Linked DNA regions of Homo sapiens: region 1 is reported to be linked to region 2. The links are microRNA targets in miRTarBase. Many come from high-throughput screens and were not tested one by one. Region 2 holds a microRNA gene; the other region holds the end of a gene's coding sequence.

What was found. Region 2 holds the annotated microRNA hsa-miR-508-3p (UGAUUGUAGCCUUUUGGAGUAGA, at 2,785-2,807, opposite strand). A microRNA usually pairs through its seed, bases 2 to 8, with sites in the 3' UTR of a target mRNA and lowers its output. Matches are read on the target gene's strand: a 7mer-m8 pairs with bases 2 to 8, a 7mer-A1 pairs with bases 2 to 7 and ends in A, and an 8mer does both.
Region 1: miRTarBase lists PIKFYVE as a target of hsa-miR-508-3p. Seed matches in the 3' UTR shown: 8mer at 709-716.

What each region holds. Positions count from the first base shown.
Region 1 is chr2:208,354,889-208,359,164 of GRCh38, reverse strand. PIKFYVE (phosphoinositide kinase, FYVE-type zinc finger containing) reads right to left here. Exons shown (of 42, transcript NM_015040.4): 42 at 419-3,975. The coding sequence ends at 3,860. Among named protein-coding and RNA genes, the nearest start is that of PTH2R, 50 kb to the left of the region's middle.
Region 2 is chrX:147,234,161-147,238,444 of GRCh38, forward strand. MIR508 (microRNA 508) reads right to left here and starts at 2,867; the gene lies at 2,753-2,867. The region is part of intron 2 of LOC105373347 (periphilin-1); the gene reads left to right.

The DNA of each region.
Region 1 (4,276 bases), not on the chromosome of region 2:
TTTTCCACAACGACACTTGCATAGGGTTTAACCTTTGTAACTTCACTTCAGCCTGATGGGTTGCTTTCTGCAACCAATCACACTGATTGCAGGCCACTAATTAATTTACACAGGGTGTACACCAACTAACCAATGGTAAATCCCTAGAGGGTATTTAAACCCCAGAAAGTTCTGTAACGGGAGCTGTTGTGCCCCAGTGCTCCTGGGCTCCTACTCTGTGGAATGTACTTTCGTTTTCAATAAATCTCTGCTTTTGTTGCTTCATTCTTTCCTTGCTTTTTGTGTTTTGTCCAATTCTTTGTTCAAAACGCCAAGAACCTGGACACCCTCCACCAGTAACACAAAGACTAGGCTTGCAGGACAAACTCCATTTCCTTTTGTTGTCAATTTCTTCAAGCAGATTCAAAACTAAGTGGAGTAAGTAGATTCTGAGTTTATTGTTAAGATTTCTTTATTTACAGTACAAGTCTCCAAAAGTTCAAGGCAGTTATCTTTTAAATAACATGTCAATCATATAAAATAGCTAGAACCAAAGTAGAGAAATATATACAATACATTAAGTACTTTCAATATAGTGGCATTTTTCATATTAAATTAAAAGAGGCTACTATGATTTACAATGTCATTTCCCTAGTTTAAAATTCAACATGTCAAAAGACATAATGTACATTTTTTACAAAACTGACACAGCAGTATTAAAACTGCTAATGATTGTAGTTTTTATTTTTTCTATAATACACTGCACCTGTGTTACCAAAAAAAAAACAAAAACAAAAACATTGCACTAGATGGTTTGAATACTGCATAAGTCAGTATATTAACACTTGAGGAATAATGAATGGCCTGGTCCGTTTTATGATCAGGCTCATTCACAACAGTTTTCACTCTTCAAGCTCAGCAAACTCCTACAGGTAATTACTTTCCTTGGCAGTTTTACACAGGATCACTGCAAATGGGTAAAATGTCATGAAGCTGATGACCACAATGCCATCACAAAAGCTGATATCGATATAACCCTACTATTTACAATACCTAATAAGAGCCAAAGCTAGAAAATCACTCACTGCTAAATCATGGAAAAAATTATAGTTTGTAGGAAATTTTGAATATCTATAAAATATTCAATAGACTACAAAAGAGCTTGCAACAGCTTGTTCTCATTATTTTTCTTAGGTCAGAATTAGAAAAAAGTAAATCCTATTTTTTAATAAGTTTTGATGGCATCAAAAAGCTTCACATTTATAAATAAGATTTTTATACAAAGCAACATGTTACTGACATAGTTTTCTCTTGCTACTATCAATTATTCTCGGGACTCATGTTGTATGTTAAGGAAGGAAGTATTAAGATTTCTTCCTCATTCCTAAATTTTCAGAATATACTCTAGGCCTTGAAGGAAAGGGAAACAGTCATTCAATACTTAACACTGAGTAGTACAATATTTGAAATATATCTATGATAGTGGCCTAAACAAGAGCAGCAAGGGACCAGACATATAGTTCTACCACTCAATAGAAATAAATTGTATATTTCCCCTTCATTAATACTGTCCAATTTTAAAATGAGAGATTACCTTTGCAAGGCAGCAACTATTGTTTCAGAATGTATTATATTGAAAATTTTTGCCACAAAGTTACCTACTAGACTACAGTACTTTAAAACACAGTTGTTCAAGTCATGGGCAAGGAAAACAAAATCAACAGGACAGATTATTGTCAGAAGCCATTCCTGTGGAGCATTCCTGCTATGCACATAGAATTGAAACTAAAAACAAAGAAACAACCTAATTGCACCTAGGGGGAGACACCTTGTACTTCAAGTGCTCATGACTAGGGGAGTACAGGAAACAGACAGGAATAATAACCTTAAGTATCCTCACAGAAAAAATGAACAGAGACAAAACAGTGTTGGCATTTTAAATCAGATACAAAATCCATTGTTCCTAGACACAAAGTAAGTTAATAATGTTCCACATTTATTTTTTTACCTCTGTACAGCTCCTTTAATAGTCTTTGATTTCAAAACTAAAATCCTCAGTGTTTTGTGTATCTTCAAAAGGCACATACACGTTTTTAAAAGGGGCCAAGTGGAACTTAGCATCACATTAGTCATAAGTCCTTGGTCAACTTGCTTCCAGTTCAAAACAAACCACATTTTTAATAAGCACCAAATACCAAACTACTGCCTTGATTCTCTAAAGCAAATTTTCCACAATGTTCCTAATTCAAGTATTCATCATACTGTGTAACTGAACTTGTCCAGATTTCTTATTATGTGAAGGTTAATGTGCTATTATTATAGGCAGTCCAAAAACAGTGAAATCCTTACAACTTTATAAATCCCTAAATTATCCTTGTTACAAAAAGAAGTCAAGAGGAAATATTCTGGGGTTACAGTATTTCCTCAAAGATAGTTTACTACTTCTGATCACTTTTTAAAATAAACAAAAATGCTATTAAACAAGAAGTTCCTTACTAAGAATAACTTTCTTTTTTTGTTTCGTTTTGTTTTTTGAGACAGTCTTGCTCTGTTGCCCAGGCTGGAATGCAATGGTGTAATCCCAGCTCACTGCAGCCTCCGCCTCCCAGGTTCAAACAATTCTCCTGCCTCAGCCACCCAAGTAGTTGGGGTTACAGGTATATGCCACCATGCCCAGCTAATTTTTTGTCTTTTTAGTAGAGATGGGGTTTCGTCATGTTGGCCAGGCTGGTCTTGAACTCCTGACCTCAGGTGATCTGCCTGCCTAGGCCTCCCAAAGTGATAGGATTATAGGCGTGAGCCACCGCACTTGGCCTATTTCTTAACATTTCTTAGTAGTCAGAACTAGCCATTATGTAGAAAGTTGGAAAAGGGGATGTCCACAGTAGAAATTTTTTATTTTATAGATGCCACCTAAATTGCTGGTTATATTGAAAAGACACTTTACCTCTGTGAATAAAACAAGTGTTTCCTTCTCACTCAATTTCTTGGATTGGGCCTAATTTATTTTTTATATTTCAAAAATCTTTCATTAATAATTATTCCATTAGGGTTTAGTAACTACAGACTCATTTACTAATGATTTACTATGATACCCTAAAAATAGAGAAAAAACCCTAGAATATGAGCGTATGCAAGTAAGTGCAATTTAATATATGAATTGCACAAAAATTTTAAACAAGTTTTAAAAATATCTCTAAAAGGAGGCTTAAAGTTAATTGCTGTAGCCTCCTGTCTTCCACAGAGAAGACAAAATTTTAAAAACATCAAACATACTCAAAAACAGGCAAGCTGGAAAGATAAACAACATGACAGGATTCCCAGTTTAAGTCAAATTCCTCAATAAAACAATAAATGCCCACGTGTTTAACCGGCCATTAATGGAATAAATCAGAATTTTTGTAAAGGTTTCAGAAATTCTGATAATAAGTAACATTAAATTATTACAGAAAAACACAAAACAAATTCAGCAGCTCTACAAATGCTTTCTAAGTAGATAACATGTTAAATGTGATGCCAGGATAGTCAATTTATGAGACACTGTTTTCTTCTTAAAACAATTAAGCTAGCAAATTTAACCCATTTTTCACCCTATCTACTCATCTCCAACTTTAGCCCTTTGAAACATGTCTGTATTTTAGCTTAAGAAAATTTTCATGCCACTTCCCAACCTACAGACAGCTCCACAGGTATCAAAAACCAAAGTGCAAATTCATGGAGTTTTACCATTCCATTACGGACAGTCTAAACAGCCACAGAACTGAAAAGCCTTGGCATACAGTGGTGAACACGATGAAGAAATAAAACATGTAGCTTATTTTTGGTCCTTTGTTCCTGTCCCCTTTTCCTTCACAGTCCATTTCAAAATATGTGCTTGATTTCAGCAATTCAGACCCAAGCCTGTCCAGTGGTCTGGTACCATTAGGAAATACTTGTCCATTGCCTCACAAAACCTAGTCCTGTACAACTCCGGAGACACCACTGTTGGCATTTTACCTGAGATTATGAAAGAGAAAAGGGGGAAAAAGCTGTTATATAATTGATTGGGCAACTGAAGTCAACTGACCATGTTCTTTCATATAAACTGCCATAAAGATACACATGCAGAAGCAGTCTGAGTGGGCAGGAAAGGTTATCTGTTGTGCCACATGCCATGGGACAAAGTCCTACCTGGTACGAGTTTCTGTTTAAAAAGACTAGCTCCTGCCTAGAGATGAGCGATGTCTAAGAGCACAAATGAGGCTAACAGTGCTTAGAGAACTTGGAAGTCTCAAGTGTTAATTAAAGACAATCTCTT
Region 2 (4,284 bases):
AAAATCAATCAACAAATAATGCAAATTATCCCTAACAAAAGAAAGAAATTTTAGCCTTATGTACCAAAACTTCTATAAATGATTTTTTAAAAAGTAATGAATCAGAAAAACAGGGCACAAATAAATAAAAACTAAAAAGTAAACCAATAATATATTTTTAAACCCCTATCAACAATCATCCCAAATTAGAAAAGCTCAACAAACAGGATTAAAATAAATAAATAAATCAACTACAACAAATTCCAAACAGAATCAATACATGAACTTATCAATTAGAAAGCATGTTGCAAATACCAAACCATGTAAGCATACACACAGATACTGAGGCAAAACATTTAAAATCCAAGCAAACTCCCACAACTTAAAAAAAAAAACACATCCCCAATAAAGCGCACATATATATGAAAGACAAAACTTTCTGAGCCCCACACAATTAAAGGGGAAAAAATAACTACAGCAACAAAACAAAATTCATACAAATTTAAATATCCCAAAACACAAGGAAAATGAAGAACCCCCCCCCCCCACACACACACACAAAATAAAACAATAAACACAAACTGAAACTAAAAATACATGGAAAATAACAAAATACTTTAAAGAAGTCAACATCATTCAAAAATAATCACAGAAATGCACGCATACACACCCACATCCATCCACCCACCCACCCACTCACATATACACACAAAAAGTCAGCTGAAAAGCAAATAGAAATACACTAGAGAATAAAACAAAGAAAGATATAGCAAAACAGCAGGAAAGAAACAAACATGTCTAAATACACAAAGGAAACTACAACTAAAACAACTCCCAAGCACCTCTCAGTACAAATCAAACCAAACGCATAAATTAAAACCAAATCAAAACCAAAGAAGAAAACTCAGATTGGAACCAACAACTAATAATTAAATCATGACAGCCCCCTCCCCCCGAAACAGGAATAAAACATTTGCTGAAACACAAACCACAATTCTAACTTAAAAAAAAAAAAAAACTTCAAGTATGCAACGAAACAACAAGCAGAGGTGCCATGAACACTGAATTGCAAACAATAAAAAATCACACTGTACCCCCAAAATATGTACAATGATTATGTGTCAGTTAAAAATAATAATACAAGCAAACAAAATAAACAAATAAACCTAAAAAGGAAGAACCAACTTTGAAAAATAAATGCACAGAGACTGGAAATGAAAGGACAATTATAAACAAAATAATATCACAAAAAACAAAAACAAAACCAAAATCAGACAGTTACCAATGTCTGGATAAACAATATTACTAAGCAAAAACAATTTGAAAAGTCCCCCCAAACCCAACCACAATATGCACATGAACGAATCAACTAACTAAATTAACTCATTTGTAAAAACCAACACACACATACTCACACACAAACTCACACCTTCTCAAAAATAAGCACAAATTTGAGAACAATTTGCAGTGGTGCCACTGTCACTGCCCCAGACACACATCTAGGGTGGTGAGACTTTCTGCCCAGGAAAACTCTTAGAGCTCATGAAATAGGGAAGAAGATACCATGAGCAGTAGACACTGGTTGTACACAGGCGATAATGTAGTAGTATTAGTGATATAAGAGAAGAATACCCTTCCTCTTGATTACAATCTAAATTTTTGCCAAGATTTGGAACGGAGTGAGACATGTCACTGACTCGAGATGACAACAAAATTCCATAAACTTCAACTTGCCCACTTAAGGTGCTTTATGAGAATTAATCCGGAAGGGGTCACCAGGATGATTACCCTCCAACCCCACTCCACCTCCATTTTTCCAGCACCGTAGTGTGTACAACCTGCTTCCTAGTCACTGCTCCAGTCTGAAGATGTTCTCCAGGGATCCGGCGCTGGCCATCTTTTGTCTGTGATTCTCAAGTTTTCTTTCTGAAGACCTTAGGTTAAGAAGGAGCAACTGAAGGGAAGTGGAAGGGAAAAGACAAATATATATGTTATCATTCTCAATAATCTGAGATGAATACCTTCACTTCTTTTTATTCCTTCATATAATTTTAAAAATAAAATGTTAAATATAATTCAAAGAAAACTAACAAAACAAATATTCTAGGCAACTTCTTAACCTTTTATAGATATGTTGAATTTAGAAAGGACTGATATACACATATTTTCAATAAATATTTTTTAAAATATACATATAAATATTTTTTAAAAATATATACATAAATATTTTATATATATATATATTTTTTTTTTAACCAACAGATAGATAATTTTGGAAATAATGTATTTTTCCAAGTAAGGAAGAACACACAAACTCTTAAGGAAAGGCTTGTCTTCAATCCTGAAAGAGCAAGAGCTTTTTGGTGCAGAGGGATGCTTCTGAGGCAGGAGGGAATTTGAAGAGCCCACTGGGAAATGAAAAGGCTTGGAAGCTAAAAGAAATGTTGTGAGGAAAAATACGTTGGAGGTTTTTCAAGGCAAAATGAATAGTTGGGCTCTGTAGCAGTAGAAGCTCTGAATATAAAAAGAGGAAAAGCCACATCCTCACTACAAATTTTCTTACCTGTGTGGGCATGCCTCCTTTGGACAAGGGTATATAAATCCCCGGAAAGCCTACATGGGTGATTTTTCCTGGGAGCCCTCAGTCCCTAGGATTTGCCTTTCAAGACCTGCCTATGGGAGTCCATTGAGTTAGCCCAGCAAGGGGAGGGTGGTGCTTGGACACAAGGGAGGGCAGCTCTGTGCATGCGGCTGTATACACTCACACCCATGGCCACCAAATATGCGTTACGTGATGTGTATTACTCTACTCCAAAAGGCTACAATCATGTTTTAGTTTACATGAGTGACGCCCTCTGGAGTAGGGCACTACACTCAGCTGAAGGTGGTGGCTCTACCCAAATATATACGTGAAGTTTAGATACGATGAAGAATTTCTAGTATGTTTGCCACTCCATTCCCATTCTCTAACCATCCTTTAGTGAGGATACTCTTACTTGCTGCATATTTCATGTGCTGATTTTGAGGACTTCTTCTCTTCAGTCGGCAACAAATAATCTCACCAACATTTTCCTATGTATTTTCAAGTCATTAGGAATGGCATATTAAAAATGATTTGTGTTCCACCAGTGTTAAAGGTCTCCCCACCCTCTGTGCCCCCAAATTCCTAGTCCCTTGGTTCAGAGTTATTTAACTTTTAACACCAAAACAACAGAGAGAACAAGGTAAACATGCAGAGAATTCAAGCAAAAGAGATAGATCATTTAGGCAGTGCCAGGATTCATAGGACAAAAATCTCATTTTCTCCACCATTCCTGGGGATTATACAGATCATTTACCTTGCCTGGAATCATTTCCAAGAGAGCAATTGGCTTAGAACCTAGTTATATCTTATTCTTCCTTCTCAGCCCTGGACTTTCTCAACATTTCCTAGAGTTCTTGTCAAGAGGGTCTCTTTCAAAATTTTCATTTGGAGACACAGGCCTCCCAGGAATCTATTTTTTCCTTTCAATACTGAGGCTGAAGAAAGGGGGAAGCAAGTAGGAGTAAGAGATCCACAGACCCCAAACTAGTTATATTTTAAGAGCTAGGGAGCCAAGTTAAACAAAAGACTGTAAAGAGAGAGGGAGGTGCACTGAATAAATTAAAGGATTAGCTAAATTACTTGCCATGGAGCAAGAGAAAGGGAGATTATGGTGTGGGACATTTAATCTGGACATGTCCAGGTCTCCCAGCATTCAGGAACCTCCACCAGTGTCAGTAGTCCAAAATGACCCAAGTCTACAGCTACACACCAATAAATCAAAACTCAAACAAAAATATTTCTAAAATCAATTCTACCTCATAAATAAGTGAAACAATGCTCAATATCACTAATTAGGGAAATGCAACCAAAACCACAATGTGATACGACTTCACACCCATTAGAATCAATATTATCAACAAGCAAACAAACAGAAAATAACAAGTGTTGACAAGTGAAGAAATTATAACCCCGTGCATTGCTGGTAGGAAAGTAAAATGGCACAGTCACCACAGAAAACACTATGGTGGTTCTTCAAAAAATTAAAGATATAATTACCATATTTCAGCAATTGCAGTATTGGGTATATACCCAAAAGAACTGAAATCAGTATTTCAAAGGGACATAGTGCCCCCATGTTCAAAGCAGCATTATTTATAATAGACAAAAGGTAGAAGCAATACAAGTGTTCATCAACAGATAAAGTGATATGCAAACTGTGGTATATGCATACAAGGAAATGTTATTTGCCCTACAAAAGGAAATAATTTTCTTTTTAAACT